2 separate regions of the Homo sapiens genome follow, and region 2 is linked to region 1. Evidence: fine-mapped expression QTL. Tissue or cell type: tibial artery. Region 1 holds a variant in brackets; the other region holds the start of a gene. All regions are shown on one strand. Distances are from middle to middle.

Evidence for each region. PIP is the estimated chance that this variant, and not a neighbour inherited with it, causes the effect.
Region 2: it holds the start of CLMN, and the variant in region 1 is fine-mapped to the expression of CLMN in tibial artery (GTEx, PIP 0.91).

The regions. Positions count from the first base shown.
Region 1 is chr14:95,291,298-95,294,141 of GRCh38, forward strand. The region is part of intron 1 of CLMN (calmin); the gene reads right to left. Among named protein-coding and RNA genes, the nearest start is that of CLMN, 27 kb to the right of the region's middle. The variant G/A (reference allele first, on the strand shown) is at 1,507.
Region 2 is chr14:95,318,388-95,320,887 of GRCh38, forward strand. It overlaps CLMN (calmin), which reads right to left and starts at 1,521. Exons shown (of 13, transcript NM_024734.4): 1 at 1,324-1,521. The coding sequence starts at 1,405. RefSeq lists enhancers at 392-511, 532-611 and a silencer at 1,242-1,501.

The sequences.
Region 1 (2,844 bases):
GCAGCCTAGCCATGGCGATGGCCTGTAAACAGATTTATCCCGCCCACATGGAGCCGCATCCCTGCAGCTCCTGCGTCTCGGGGCTGGCTAATACCTGGGACCGCATGCTGCCTGTGCCAAAAAAACCCAGACACACATCCTCCTGGAAATATCATTGGCCACAGGAGCTGTTTCTCATCCCCAGAGCTCCAGGTTGCAGGTGCGGCTGGGGATTATCACTTCTGCAAATAAACACCAAGCCCAGGTGAAAGCTCCAGGAGAGACGGAGTCAGACTGGCCCCAGCAAACCTCGCTGGGGAATGGGGAGCCCTGTCCTCCTCCTTAAAAGTGAGCTGAGCGTACGTTATTCAGAGCCCCATAGATAAATTCCCATAGCCTGTGACCCAATATTTCCACATCTAGGTATCTGTCCTCTAAGATCACCAGAAATGGGGACAAGAATGAACGTGCAAGGAGGTTCAGCAGGAGGTACCAAAAAGCATGCAAAGCTGGAGAAGCCGTGGATGGCCAACAGCAGTTAAGTCAGCCACAGAAAGAATGCGCATGCAGCCCCAAAAATGCTGGTTACCCAACATTTAAAACATGGGAAAATTCTGAGGTCAGAACACAAAGTGAAAAAAAATAGGATCCAAAATTATATACATGGTGGACTGAAATTGCTAATGGCAATGACAAGCATTTATTGAGAACTGACTGTGTTCCTGGCACTGTGCCAAGGGTTGACGTGTTCCCACGTCCTCATCTGGCCTCACTGCAAGCCCGAGAGGAAGGTCTGACTTTTGGGCCTATTTCACAGATAGGGGGACTGAGGCATGGAGAGAATTCAGCGGCTCACTCCACACAACTACACGTCCTTAACACCCTCTACACCATTTATGTTAAAACTCGACACATTCACAGGGAAAAAGCCCAAAAAGAAAATGCATCAAAAGGTAAATGGTAGTCATTTCTGGGTGGCATCATTTGGAACATTTTGTATTTTTCCATATTTTATACAGTGGACATGTACTACTTTTAAAACCAGAAACTATGCTATTTTTAAAAGTCTCCAGAGATTTCATAAGCTCCCCTAGGATGGTTTAAAATAACAACACAAACAAACACCAGTAATGAGATCTGCCCCCCAAGGGTCCCCCACCCCCACCCCCACCCCCACCTCCACCCCCTGCATCTTGGGTCACAGGCTCCATGGCCCTCCAGGAGGTGTAAGTAAAAGCCTTACTGTCTCCCTTATTGATTTTTGTCCTTCCTCTAAGAAATGTCCTTGAATTTAAATAACTTCAGGTCAAAAGCCTAAGCAAGCTCTGCCCTGCACACTCACGGGGACCGACGGTACCCTCTGACTTCACCTGCTCTGCAGATTCCCAGGCTGGTGGTAGGGGAGGGTGGGGACCATTATGCTTGTGCCCCCACTAAAAACACCAGCTTTCCCACGAGCTAGGATTTGCTGGGAGCTGGAGAGAAATCAGCATAGCCTGATTAAATTAACATGAACCAGCTCAGGGA[G/A]GGCGAGATGAAGCTCCAAAAGCGCAGGCCTGTGAGAGCACGGGTGCCCGGTGTGGGTCTGCTCCTCCAGGGACATGGCTAATTGCACCCCAGCACATCCAACCGGCCACAAACATGATCATCCAGGGGTAACCACGGAGCAGGAGAAAGAAGTGGGTAAGTGACACAGAGCAGAATGCAATTTTGCACATAGCCGTCCATGGCCATGAGAACCACTAGGAATGTATTTGGGAGATGGTTAGAAATAAAAAAATTAAAATGACAATAACTATGTCAGGGTAAATGAGATGGAAAATCCCTGCCCTCCCCTCCCTTCCCTCCTTCCCTCCCTCCTTCCCTCCCTTCTTCCCTCCTTCCCTCTCTCCTTCCTTCCCTCCCTCCCTCCTTCTTTCCCCCCCTTCCTTCCCTCCCTCCTTCCTTCTTTTCCTCCCTCCCTCCTTCCTTCCCTCCCTCCTTCCCTCCCTCCCTCCTTCTTTTCCTCCCTCCCTCCTTCCTTCCCTCCCTCCTTCCCTCCCTCCCTCCTTCCTTCCTTCCCTCCCTCCCTCCTTCTTTTCCTCCCTCCCTCCTTCCTTCCCTCCCTCCTTCCTTCCCTCCCTCCTTCCTTCCTTCCTTCTCTCAATACCTCCTTCCTCCCTTCCTCCCTATTTTCAAGTTTTCTCTGACTTGTTTTTAAATCAAATCAAATAACCATACATATCTTGAGGCCTCCCTAGGCAGTCTGTCAGCCTCTGATCTTCACTGTCATTCTCTATGGATTCAAGACCAGGAGAATGGGCTCTGTGCACCTGCTCCCAGCAGGCAGGAACGAGCTGCACAGACCCCAGCACTGGATAAGAAGGGCAGAGACATGTGGGTGTACTGCGCCCCCTGTCTCCCACCCACCCCCGCCCCGCAGCCCTCTCTGGCTTGTGAAATGGAAAAATAAATCTGAGGCAACAACACATCCCCTGGCTGAGCTGTCCTGTGAGGCTGAGAATGGGGTCCAGGCTCCTTCCTTTCCCAAGGGTCTCGGGACCATCACACAAACCTGCAGTCTCTAGAAACCAAGTCTGGTGTTGTTCTACGTGGTACGGAATGAGGCAACATGAAGTAGAAAACAAGGAAAAACTCCCTCCCACTCCCTCCTCAGTCTCTCACTTAGCGTTTTAGCTAAAACTTACCAAACGCCAGCAGGGAAGGTGCCAGCCCCACTGCCTGGCTGGAGGGTGACACCAAAGAGGAGGAGGAGGAGGAGGAGGCCAGAAGTCTGGCTGGAGGGCTTCCCCACTCCCCAGGCGAACCTCTTCCTACCTACCTCACCCTAAACAGCCAGGAGAGTGCGTGCAGTCAGCCTGCCTG
Region 2 (2,500 bases), 27 kb after region 1:
GCAAACTCAGTTTCCAGTGTCCACCCCAGGAGGCTCCCCAGTCCTTTTGAGGTCACCTCTGCCGGCACTGTCCTTGCCCAACCTAGGGGTGGGGCAGACCCTGGGCTCCCAGGAAACATTCAATCAGGTGTAATGTTTAAACTTGACTGCTCGGCCATCCCCCAGCGCTGGGGCTCCCTACCCTATAACAGTAAAGTCGCTGCCCTGGCTGGGGGAGGGCACCCACAGCCCCATCGCCTCTCTGCCCAGGCCTCCCAGCTCGCTCCTAGCCACTCCTAACCTTGAACCCTCTAGAAACCCAAGCCAGCAGGGGAAGCAGCTACAGAAACTTCACCTGCACAGGTCAATGTGGGTGAAGAAGGGCCGGAAGTGGTGTTCTGTCTAGTTCTGCAAAGCCCATATATGAAAAAAAAGAAGCTGGAGATACAGTTCCATGAAGAACACCTGTCTGTTGGGTGGATAGGTTGTGGAGGGGAAATTATGGGTGACTTTTTTCCTTCAAATATTTTTGTGCTTTCTAAGTTTCCACATTGAATAAATTCTTTTGAAAGAGAAACACACTTCATGTGTGGCACCGCCATACCCAGCCGCTCTCCACCACTGGAGTTTCTCTTTCACCTCTTCTCAGCTACCTCCCAGGTAGAAGCCTTGGTCCCAGTGTCCTGTGCCCAGGCAGGGTCGGAGTTGGGGGCCAGCGTGGGGGAAGGGTGGGGCTCTCGCCCTCTCCCCAGTTAGAGTCCTGATCCTGCAGGGGAGGGGCAGCTCCCTAAGCAAAGTGGCCGCTGGAGTTGGGTGCTTGCCTGACCCCACCGATCCGATCCGCACCCCTGGCCCCGCTTTCCCCAACTCACCCCCTGAAGCGCCGCCCACCATTCAATTCCCCTTGCCTCGAAGGTACTTAGGAAGTGCGCGAACTCACACACACACACACACACACACACACACACACACACAGAGTCGCACTGTCTCCTCCCCTCCCTAACCTGGGCCACCGCCCCCAAGAGCCCACGTACAAACTTCTCCAAACTCGCAGCGGTGACTGGAGGGGGTGGTGACGTCCCCCTAATGAAAATGCGAGCCCTCGCCCCACAACACACACACGTGTGGCGCCCCACCCCCTGGGCAACTGTAAACCTGGCCGCGGCTGGCCGCCCTGGGGCTTGGGGGCGGGTATCCAACCCCAGCCTCCCACCTCGAGGCAAGTGACAGGAACAACGAGCGGCCGGCGAGCGGGGGCGGCGCGGGGGAGTTGCCAAGTGTCGGAGCGGCGCCCCGGGCCCCCCGAGCGCCCAGCCATCCCGGGGCGAGCCTGGGCTGCGTTACCTTGCAGGTTCTGCACTCGGATGTCGCTAATCTGCCCGATGAGCTCCTCGCGTTGGAACCAGTCCCACTCGTGTGCAGCCATGAAGCGCGGGCGGGAGAGCCCGGGCCAGCGCGGCGCGGGCGGCGGGCGCGGAGAGCCTGGCTGGCGGGCGCGCGAGCGGCACGCACCCGGCGAGGGCGCCGCGGAGCTGGAGTCGCGGCGGGCGCGGGCGGGGCGCGGGCGCGGGCGGGGCGGGGCGGGGCGGGGAGGGGCGGGCGGCGCGGTCGGGGCCGCCCCCGCCGCGGGCTGGCGCGAGCGAGCGCGGGGCGGCGGGTGCGGGGCGGCGGGCTCGCTCTCACTCCCCCGTGCGGGGGCGGGGGCCCTGAGGAGCGAGGGGCGAGGGGCGAGGGGCGGGGCGGGGCGGGGCAGGGGCGGGAGGCTGGGTCAGGCCAGCTTGTGTTTTTTTTCTTTCCGGGGTGTTTGTAGGTTGGATTGTTTGGTTACAAACCGGCTGTGATGAGGCGCGGGTCCCGGCCCCCAGATTGTGATGTCTCAGGGGGCGGTGGGCCGGGTGACGCAACTGGGGGTGGGCCCGTGGGTCCCAGTACCTGGTCCAGGAGGCAGCGTCTCCCTCCCGTCCGGGATAAGACACCCCCTCCGCGGGTCCCCTGTCCACTCTGGAGAGGCAGCCCCCACTTGGAGGGACCAGGACCCGAGCCCTGCCCATCCCCGAATCCTGGGAGCCCTGCGTGGGGAGTGTCGAGGGCCTGGGTCGGGGGGCAAACTAGTGTGGAGGTAAAGTTGTGGGAGTCTCCAAAGTGCGGGGGGGCTGTGAAAGAAGGGCCTTCTTCGTTGGTTTAGATACTAGGAGCCTTTTCCGGTCCAGTAATGTGACTCCAGCTTCTAGGAAGGAACAAGAAGCAGGCCAACTCCTAGGAGCTGGGGTACGCTGTGGGGTCTCTGGCCACTGAGTCTCCAAGTGACCCTCTGTGGGGTCACTGGAAATTAGTGAAAATGCCAGGACAGAACTTCCTGTGGAGACTACTGAAAATGCCAGGACAGGCCTTCCGGTCCCCTCCCTCCCCACCTCCACTGTTGAACTCTAGAGAATTCCAGGATCTTATCCTGTTTGGTGCCCACCATGTGGTTTACACTCCTTAAAAGTGAGACCCTACAGTTACCGAATTTGCCCAAGGT